Linked DNA regions of Homo sapiens: region 2 is linked to region 1. The links come from fine-mapping of genetic effects on plasma protein levels. Region 1 holds a variant in brackets. A gene starts in the other region. All regions are shown on their forward strands.

Evidence for each region. PIP is the posterior inclusion probability: the model's chance that the variant is causal. Protein levels are from antibody-based Olink assays in UK Biobank. Linkage for the fine-mapping came from a reference panel and not from the study's own genotypes, which makes the PIPs less certain.
Region 2: it holds the start of VSNL1, and the variant in region 1 is fine-mapped to the plasma level of the VSNL1 protein (UK Biobank, PIP above 0.99).

What each region holds. Positions count from the first base shown.
Region 1 is chr3:195,576,398-195,581,771 of GRCh38, forward strand. It overlaps APOD (apolipoprotein D), which reads right to left. Exons shown (of 5, transcript NM_001647.4): 2 at 2,942-3,098. The coding sequence starts at 3,064. Among named protein-coding and RNA genes, the nearest start is that of APOD, 4.9 kb to the right of the region's middle. The variant A/G (reference allele first, on the strand shown) is at 3,021.
Region 2 is chr2:17,538,409-17,543,782 of GRCh38, forward strand. It overlaps VSNL1 (visinin like 1), which reads left to right and starts at 2,288. Exons shown (of 4, transcript NM_003385.5): 1 at 2,288-2,510. RefSeq lists enhancers at 593-712, 5,014-5,374.

The DNA.
Region 1 (5,374 bases):
TGTTTGCAGATGACATATAAAATATCCTAAGAAATCTAAAACAGAGACAAAACCAAAAACTATTGGATCTAATGAGTTAAGCAAGGTTACAAGATACAAGATTAATATTCAAAAATCAAATATATTTCTCAGCCAGACGCAGTGGCTCATGCCTGTAATCCCAGGACTTTGGGAGGCCGAGGCGGGTGGATCACTTGAGGTCAGGAGTTCAAGACCAGCATAGCCAACATGGCGAGGCCCCATCTCTATAAAAAATTTAAAAATTAGCCGGGCATGGTGGCACGCAACTGTAATACCAGCTACTCGGGAGGCTGAGGCAGGATAATCTCTTGAACCTGGGAGGCAGAGGTTGCAGTGAGCTGAGATGGTGCCACTACACTCCAGCCTGGGTGACAGAGCAAGACTCTGTCACACACACACAAAAATATATACATATATAAACATATTTCTCTACTTGCAATGAACAATTTGCAGATGAAATTAAGAAAATTCCATTTAAAAGGCCGGGCACGGTGGCTTGCTCACACCTGTAATCCTAGCACTATGGGAGGCCGAGGCGGATGGATTGCCTGAGCTCAGGAGTTCGAGACCAGCCTGGGCAACATGGTGAAACCCCGTCTTTACTAAAATACAAAAAAACTTTGCTGGGTGTGGTGGCGTGTACCTGTAGTCCCAGCTACTTGGGAGGCTGAGGCAGGAGAATTGCTTGAACCCGGGAGGCGGAGGTTGCAGTGAGCCAAGATGGTGATGCTGCACTCCACCCTGGGTGACAAAGTGAGACTCCGTCTCAAAAAAAAAAAGAAAAGAAAAGAAAAAGAAGAAAATTCCATTTACAATAACATCAAAAGAATAAAATATTTGGGAATAAATTTAACCAAAGAAACATAAAACTTATACTCTGAAAACTACAAAGTATTGTTGAAAGAAATTAAAGATGACCTAATTCAATGGAAAGATACACTATGTTGACAAGTTAGAAGACTTAATATTGTTAAGATGGCAGTACTCCCCAAATTGATCTTCAGATTTAATGCAATCTGTATCAAATTCCAATTGGATTATTTGCAGAAATTGACACGCTGATCCTAAAATTCATATAAAAATGTAAGGGACACGGAATAACCAGAAGAACAAAGTTGGAGGACACATGTGTTCTTATTTCAAAGCTTACCTCAAGGCTTTGATTACTACAAAGCTATAGTAATCAACACTGTGTGGTACTGGCATAAGTATAGACATATAGATCAATAGAACTGAGAGTGCAAAAATAAACTCTCACATATACAGTCAATTGATTTCCTATAACGATTTCCTACAAGAATATTATTTGGCAATAAAAGGGGATATAGTATTGATACATGCTACAACGTGGATGAACCTTGAAAACGTTCAGTAAACCAGTCACAAAAGACCACATATAGTATGATTTCATTTTTATCAAATATGCAGAATAGGCAAATTCGGAGACAGAAAGTAGATTAGTGGTTGCCTGGGGCTGGAAGGGTTGGAGGGGAGATGGAGACTCCGTGAATGGGTATGAGGTTCCTTTTCGGAACAGTGAAATGTTCTAAATCGATGGTGGTGGTGATGGTTGCGTAACTCTGTGATGATACTAACAACAATGGAAAGTGAAAAGCTACTTTAAACAAGTGAATTACGTGCTATACAAATTATATCTCAATAAAGCTGCTATTTTTTAAATCCTGCTTTAATTCTCAAAGGACTTCTATAAATACAGATCAGTTATCATTTCCAAAGTGCTTTGGGATTTGTATCCAAAAGCGAAAGTATAACTCAGATTCCTTGGATGTTTTCTTTAAAGCCTCTCTGTGGTCTATCAGAGTTACCTGAATAAAGGGATCAGCCTGTAAGTGGAGCAAGTCAGTGTAGACGTTAGTGTACTCTATGGCCTCTTCCTACCACACCTGTATCTCCTGATCCCATGGATGGTGCTCCTTCTCCCACCCAGCGTCCCCTCAGAGGTCCCAACACTCATTCACCTTGAGGTGCGAGTGTATGATAACAACTTCGATGTTACTGTTGCCATTCTTAAAAGAGATCCAAACCTTCTCCTAAGGAGAGGAAGTCTTAAGGGTGAGATTCCAGGCTTGAGTAGCAACAGTGGGAGCCTGTGAGTCCTGTCCTCCAATAGCTGCCTCTTTCTGCCGCCCTCTTCCTTCCCCTCCCGCTAAACCCCAGGAAGAAAGACCATCTATGGAGGAGCTCGTTGTATTGATGACATTTTGGTGCAGATACCAAGAAAGCCCCCTGGAGAATTTTGGGCTTTCCTGAGCCCTGTTTGAGTGACCTTTGGGTGCCCTGCACTGCTGAGAAGCCTGGTTTTGAATCCTACTTGCATTTACCAGCTGCGTGAGCTGGGGAGGGAGATTCCGATGCTGCATCTGTAGAACAAGGATAATAGCTCTGTAGCAGCTACTATGGTTCCCTGGTCCTGTTCCCCTCAGCCCACCTCTGAGTTCACCGCAGCCACGGTAGGCAATTCCCAGACACTGCCAGCCTCCCACCTGAGACCCTGTGTCTCTCCTCTGCCAGGGGGCTCAGCTAGAGCCACGGATGCTCCCATGACCTGCTGGCAGCAGCTGTGGGACAATCGGAGGGGCATGCTCCACGTGTCCTCAGAGGGTGCCCAGTGTGACTGACCCTGACGGCCCAGGGCGACAGCTCAGGAACGCACCCTTTATTGCTTCTGTGCTGTCTCCGACTCACCTTCCCACCTGCTCTCGTGCGTCCCGGGATCATCCCAAACCTCTCTGCCTGCAGTCTTTATCTCAGCAGATGTCTGCTTTGGGGAAACCCCAAATAAGATAAATACTTGTCCCAAGGTGTGCAGTGGAAATTAAAGCAGCATAATTACATTGAACCTTGTAGAACGCTTATTCACAGCGGAGGCAGCAAAACAAACGGGAGGTTCGCCTTTTACCTTATTCACGTCAAAATTCTCCTGCACCGGAGGATTGGGGCACTTCCCAAGATGAAATGCTTGTCCCTCTGCCGCACCG[A/G]AGAGGCCAGCCAGTGCGGAAAGCAGCAGCAGCAGCATCACCATCTTGGGGCTGGGTGGCTGGAGAAGGGACCTGGAGCTGCGGGAACGCAAAGCAGCTGGGGTTGTCATTCTGAGCCTTCTAAGGCCACACAATCATGAAGTAAGAGTGCTGTGCCCATGGTCCCCTCTGTGGGCGGTCCCTCCTCTTCTCTCCCCAGCCCATGTGAACCCTCATCCTGCAGGGGAACACCTGCCTGTCCTTGTTGCTGTGAGGCCTTCCTCAGAGCCTCTGCACCTCCACGAGGGCGCTCTCTGCCTGGTATTCTGGTTTGTTGGATTGATTTTCACCCCTGTCCCACCTAATTATGCATCTCCCAGGATGGGCACTGTGTCTAGTTCTCCTCAGAATCACCCACGGACCTCAAAGTGTCGGCTCAGTAGATACTTGTCAAATGAACAGAAACAGCGTGGAGAGGGCTATGTAAAGTGGGGGATTAAAGCCTCCAAGTGAACCACGAAAGACACGAAACCAAACCAAATGTTGCCCAACACTTAGTGTCCTCTGAGATTCTTCAGGGAGATGCCTCTCTGACACCATCCCTCCCCCTGCCCTCGTCTTGCTGGCTGTTCTACCAGCCCAAGAGTGCGCTTGGAAACCTTAACAGGGAGCGGCCTGCTGGGGGCTCCAGGGTCACCCCAGCCAGGTTCAAATTGTGACTCTGCCCCATACTAAGTATAACTGTGTCCAATTTATGCCTTAGCTTCTTTGTCTAGTAAATGGGAATAATTATCATTCCTAGCTCATGAATTTTTGTGAGAATTAAATGAGATAATATACAGAGAGTACTTAGAGGAGTGTCTGATACAGAGTAAATGCTCAATAAATGCTAGTTATTGTTATTATCAAAAGCAGAAAGATGATGGTATTTCCCAGGTTTCTTCTTTCTTTTCTTTTCTTCTTTCTTTCTTCTTTTTTTTTTTTTGACATTCTGTTGAGGGTTTTTGTTTTGTTTTGTTTTGTTTTGAGATGGAGTCTCACTCTGTCACCCAGGCTGGAGTGCAGTGGCACAATCTCGGCTCACTGCAACCTCTGTCTCCCGGGTTCAAGTGATTCTCCTGCCTCAGACTCCTGAGTAGCTGGGATTACAGGTGTCCACCACAACTCCCGGCTAATTTTGGTATTTTTAGTAGAGACAGGGTTTCACCATGTTGGCCATGCTGGTCTCAAACTCCTGACCTCAGGGGATCCACCCGCCTTGGCCTCCCAAAGTGCTGGGATTACAGGCCTGAGCCACCGCACCCGGCCTGTTGAGGGTATTTTTCATAGATGAAGTTCATTAAATCAGAGAAGGACTGTCAGCTGATGTGTAACTGTGCAACAAGCATTTCAACCCCAAGAGTCCTTTGGCAGCAGAAGCTGGCTTTGAAGCGGGGCAGCAAGGCAGGGAGACAGAGGCTGCAGGACTGTGTGCAGGTTCTGGGCATTGGAAGCTCCCCTGTTTCCTTCACTGACTCGCTGTCAATTTGCTCCTTTCCTTGTGACTCCTTGCCTGTAGCTTGCACACGAGCTATTTCCAGCTCTCTGCATTTCTCCCTGTAATGATGATGACTGATGCAATGCAAGCAAAATGTTCTCAGATCTGAGCATTTCGAAGGATGTGTCATTACAGGAATAATTATAACTGCTTTATTGTGAGTCTCTAAACCTCTAAATACCCTTTAATAATCAATAGCTTTTTTTCCCCTGGAGGTTTTGTTGCCTGGTTTTCCAAAGAACAGTTATGTAAGGAGTGGCAGCTTGCCAGCTGGGGTTGCTGCAGGGGGAGATGGTTGCTGAGGCCCCTTTGAGCAAGTCTGCCACAGGGCCACTTTCCCTGGTCTCTGAGGTTCCGTTTCTCATCGGCTCCACCACTGTATAAACAAAACCTGTCTTTTAACCTTTTGGGGGATGATGAATTTATAGAAATGCAGCCTAAACCCACACAAATTTGCATCCATTTTAAAGAGATCTTGAATTCTACTTAGTAGGCCCAAGCTGAAAGCCTGGCCCAGAGGATCAAACCTCAAAGACTGGCCACACACTATGCACATTCCACAAGGTCCCCACACTGGATAGGACCTTAGAGGTCATCTTTCTAGCTCTACTTCCAAGGTGTACAGATGGGGAAGCTGGGGCCTGGAAGGGGCAGAGAGCTGGGACTCGAGCTCCATCTCCCCCTCTCCTGTCTGCAGCACCCCGAATCTGCTTCTTCTGTGCACCGCCATAGGGCCTTTCAATAACCCCCCACCTCTGTGACCTGATGAGTCTCACCACCACATGACACTGCAACAAAAGTCAGTTCTACATCTTACTCTGACAAAATGCTCTCTTGT
Region 2 (5,374 bases), not on the chromosome of region 1:
ATTAAACATTACAATATCGCATTTAGGACGCAAACAGCGCTGCAGTGCAAATGGAACTTTAAAAAATCTGCCCGCCCACGTAGACAAAGCTACTTTACAAAAGCGCACGCGTCGATATCAATCGTACCCTACAACAGAGCATGGTTTAAAGTATCAGTGTACATTTTTTCCTAAACACAAGTTGCAAGTAAGTTATCTAAAATCGAACACCGCCACGAAAGAGACCTCCAGGGTGCAATAAATAGGTATATCTCGTTGAAGTGGAGAAATGGCATCATGACCCTTTGGGTTGATGCAGATTACAGTGCGGAGGCTGTTCTCGAGAGAGAAACTAGAACTCAGCGTAAAATGCTGTAGTAGGGGAAATCGACCAAAGACGAGATTTTGAAAGCCTTTTGAAAGTCGTTTTTCTAGCTAAAAAGAAAAAGTGACTTATTCAGGACTGACTCCCCCTGCCAGTCCCAGGAAACAGGAGCAGCCCGGCGCGCCCGGGAGCCCCGCAGCGCAGTGCGCACTGCGGCTCCAGAGCGAAGGGCTGGCGCCCGCCAGATTCTAAACGTGCTCGGCTGCCGCAGCCCGCCGGGGCCGCGCGCCGTGGTCCGCGCGACTCCGCGCTCCGGGTTTCCGCGGTCACCAGCACTGGCGGAAGAGCCCTGCCGAGAGGGGACAGCCGCGGGCGGTGTCCCGGGAGTCCCGAGAGCGCGCTCCCCCTTTGCGCAACCTTCCCGAGGCGTCCTGCCCGGGAAGCCAGTTCCTGGGTTCTGGGCTGGCTAGGTTGGCAGCGAATGAGGCTTAGGCATCACTGCCTGAGGCCCTCACTTAGCATGTCGACAGCCACAGACTTGTCTGGCGGAGTTTCTCCTGGTGCCCACTTAAGTAGTCTCAAGTTTGTTCAAAGCTGGACTCCTCGACTTGGAACCAGGAGCAGCTGGAGATTTGTCAATTTAGAGCTCATTTGCCACGGGAGACGCTCTTGGTGTCCCCAGCACCGAAGGGTAGGTCAACTCTACAGTTTTCCTGAACATGATAAGGTGTGTGAAGACGCTGTGCAAATTGTACAGCGCTCTGCTTAAGGAGAACCTCGATCTTCATCTCGCCCCCAGAACTTCCCTCCCTTGAAAATAAAACTCCCACCTGAATGTAAAGCCCAGGAGGGGGTTTTGTTAACCGCACTTATTCCCAAAGCATAAAGGAATGTCTAATAGTTTTGCAAATGCTTCCATGAATAATTGTTGAATGAGTTCATGTACAACATACACACTTGAGGAAAACTGGTCTGGTTGGGAACATCTGGGAATTCTCCTTGCTTTTCTGGTAGGGAAGCGACCGACCAAACATTTATTGGGCACTACTCCTTGCCAAGCCTTCTAGGCTTTGGCAGGCCAATGGGGAGCCGGGGGGAGGGCTGGCAAACCTGTTAGTTGTTCAAGGACACAAAGGGGGCTTTATAAGATGGCCTAATCAGAGCCCTTAAACGTGGGTTCGCAAAATGGTTCATTCCCGCCCTTTCACCCACCCCCTCCCACCCCAGACGCAAAGCATATGTTAAAAACACTTAAGTGCATACAGAAGGCGCTTGGCTCAGGGTACACAGGGCAAGAAGCCTCGGATCCCAGCTCCCTTTAACACACATTTTTTCAACGCCGTTCTGGACCGAGACTGTCCGGGGCACTGGGTGCTGCAGGACCCGGCTCCCAGTACTCCTAGCAGAAGACCCTCTGATGAAATGGCCCATGACAAAATGACCACCATAACCGTTCCTTCAGTAAGCCAGGTAGACGTGCTCACAGCTTGCTGGGAAGTCTTCTTTCGGAGATTTCTGCAGTTTTCTCCTTCACCTTACAGCCTAACAAAGGGTGGGCCGGGGGTCGGCTAGGACAGAAAGCAGCGGGAAAAGCGGCTCCACGTGTTCCATCTCTGGCCTCGGCCTTCAGCCCCCAGGTTCGGTAACCACTGGGCGTGGCGAGTCCGGGTAACCCGCAGTCCCTCGCGCCCGTCCAGGTGCGGGTTGCTCCGGTAGCCGGACTCCCTTTTCCTATATACTTTCCTTTTGAGCTTTTGCTAAAATCTGGAGACGTGGAATCCACCCGCGGAAACTCCGAGCCCCTCCGACTGAGCATGCGCCATCGCCAGGCGGCTTTTGGTCACAGGCTCCCGAGTTCTCCTAGCTGGGGCTGCGGAGCTGGGGGGAGGGAAGAGAGGAAAGGGGAGGGGGTGCCTGGAGAGGCGGAGGCTCGCGCGCCTGCGCATCCAGCTCCAGGGACCCTAGGTTTTCTATGGGATTCCCAATCTGCAGCAGAGATTTACCCGAGCGTGTTGCGGCAGCGGCTGGGCTTGCAAGGCGCGATCCAAGAGGGATTTAAGCAGCCCAGAGCTCCAGAGAAAAAGAGAGCGAGAGAGAACCACACACAGAGACGGCTTAAGCGTTTACCCGAATTAAATATATATTTTTAAAAAGAACTGTTGAGTTTTATCATTTTCGTTAAGTGACCGTGCGCAGCGCTGTAACTGTAAGTGGAAAATACAATCTTCGTTGCATTTCTGCATGTGTAGTGCAACCAACTGTCAGAGAAATGCTTTGGCTATTGTCACATACTTTGCTTTGCATAGATGCGTCTAAATGCATGGGGACAATTTCCTTGCTTAATGCTGGCGATCTGAATGTGCTCTTAGTCCATGGGGGATCTTTTGGAATATTGGGGGTGGGGGAAGGGGGAGTGTTTATATGCGGCGTGTTTGGGGGATTGTCTTAGACTAGATTTAAGACAGGTGAAACTGAGATGCTTTCTTAGTTTGTCTTAGACAGATTTAAGTAGCTAATTGACCGATTGTGAAGTTTTCCGGTTGCTGATAAAACTATTGAGCGGGTACAGTCGAGTAGCAACCTGTCATCCGTGGGATTGGTGCACCATTTTTCTCACTGTGGAAGGGCAGCAAAGGTGTTTGCTAAGTAAAACTGAGTGGATGAGATTGGTATGGAAATCATGGTTGATCTCTGAGCGGGATGTTAGTGTTTAAGATCCACGGAGTCAGGCGCAAAATGAGCACATTTCTCTCAGTATTCAGAAATGAGTAGATAATTTTTTTCGTCTTTGATTTTTGTCACAATGGTGAATGGGCAGAAAAGGGAAAGATGCTCTACTGCACTGTCGATTTTGAACGGAGTCACAGGCTCGGTCGCTGAATGGGGACTGTCAGACCCAAACTAGTTACCTGCCTTTGCATTCCGTGTTCGCCATCCGGAATCTGGGGTTAAAAAATGTAAATCAAGGTGTGTTACATTTGGTAGTATTTCTTTAAAGGATAAAAGGTCGTTTTGTGTTTTGAGTTAAAATGGGTTGTTCCTTGCCCAGAAACTGGAAGAAGGGTCTTTGCAAGGTCAAACCCCGGGTGGAAATCAGAATGATGAATACCCTCAGGGGTACAAGAATGTGTACGTGGAAGGAGCGAGGAGAGGCTGATGCTCCCTGCATGGTGGAAATGATGAGTGCTCCGCATTGCCTGATCAGTGCCCTGTGAGATGCCAGAGTGGGAATCCATTTTTCTAGAGTTGCCCTCCTGTCCGTATTTTGGAAACTAAAATAAAATAGAATTGTTGGTGGTTGTGGAGAACACTAAGTACATACTATTTGTGTATCACTTTCCAGTTGAAGGCAAGAAAAGCTGGGGAGTTTTATTTCTACATATTAATATTTATTTTAATTTCTAAAGGAATTTCAGGTTGAGACAAATTTAAAATGAAACTCTTGTGAAAACACATTTTACCCCCACTATCATTTAAACTGCCTACGTGTGTTTGTGTGTGTGTGGTGGGGGGGAGTAGGGGGTGATCCTACATCATTGAACAACTTACTTTTGAATGCACTCTCATTAAGCCTTGGGTATTTAATAACCCCAGAAAATGCTGCACTGAAGCAGGTTGGCAGAATGGGCATGAGGCAGAAAGATGAGAAAAAAGCATGGCTAGTGCGTGCTGGATTTCCACGAAATAAGCAAATCCAATTTTGGGGATGAAATGAAATAAATTTTCCCTCAAATCGGGTGTGGGGGCCATCAAATAGGGCTCTTTGGCCCTTTGATCAGTCCAACCATTTGGAACCCCTCAAAGGAATTTATAATTTATTTAAATGGATGAAATTTGTAATTGAAAATTCGAGAAGAACCTCTCATTGGAAATCCACAGTATAAATCATACTGCCTTGTCTATTCCTTCTTTCCTTACTCCAGGGCAGAAGGACTAATCATTTGTCATAATTGAGCCATACTCCCTGTCATCATTGAGCATTGGCATCAGTTCGATGAATGGTGCAGGTGTTGACACTGCATTGATAAAGAGGGGTGGTAGAGGAAAAAGGGGGGAATTAGGTATCAAAACTGATAAATGCTTGGTCTTGGAGTCCCTGGCTCATAGGTTGACAGAGAGGATCAAGTTAGGCAGAGACCCTGTAAGGTATCTAGTCCAAACCCCTTGCTTTGTAGATGAGGAAACTGAGGCCCAGAACCATGGATGTAGAGAAAAGTCAATTAACTTCTAGTCTATGGAATAAACAATTAAAAAGTAATGTTGAGTGGAAATGTTTCCTTCTCTCTTTCATTTTCAGCAGTCTCAGTGACATTGCTGCAGACTTCAAATAAATAACTGTCTGCTCTCCAGCACATCTTTTGAAATTGTCTCTAGGGGTCCCTTTTATACCACCTCATTTCTCTTCCTTGCCTCTCTTTGTCTTGTAAGGTCTCTTTCTCTCTCTTTTTTATTGCCCCTCACCTCTAATATCCCCACCTCTTTGGATGTTTAGTCTGGCTTTTCTGGCCTCCTCTGCATCTCAGACAATTTCTTTGGAATCCTTGGCGTTTGCCGGGAGCACTAGCGTATCAGAATCTGCAGTTCCTGTTTGAGAACTGCCCAGGGCCCATTTCCATCTTTCCCTGCTGTGTTCCCCAAAATCCTTCAGGGAATCCAGCCTTCAAAGACACTGCAGTTACATTCCCACTTTTCTCCCCATCTGTCCTCCTCCAAAACCACTGCAGCTGCAGAGATTAGGACTTCGTGGAGTGAGGAAGCTGCAGGGTTTCCAGAGTGGACTTTGCCAGCTCACCTCTGGCTCCTAGGAGGCAGAACCCAAATTAGAGATGCCTGTCTCCAGCCTTCCTGGAAATCCTCCAGATAAAGCCACCTGCGGAGAAGGGAAAGGGAAGGGACAGAAAGACCGAAGAAGGCTTGACTGGTTTAACCTGAAGTTGTGCTATAGAGGAGAGTAGTGCAGCTTTTTCATCCTTTAAAGCTTTTAAAGCATTTGCATAGCTTTTCCTCAGGCAGATCTTTTGTTTTATTCTTTCGCAGTTTCTGCTCTCATCTTGCTGGATGAGGGCTGCA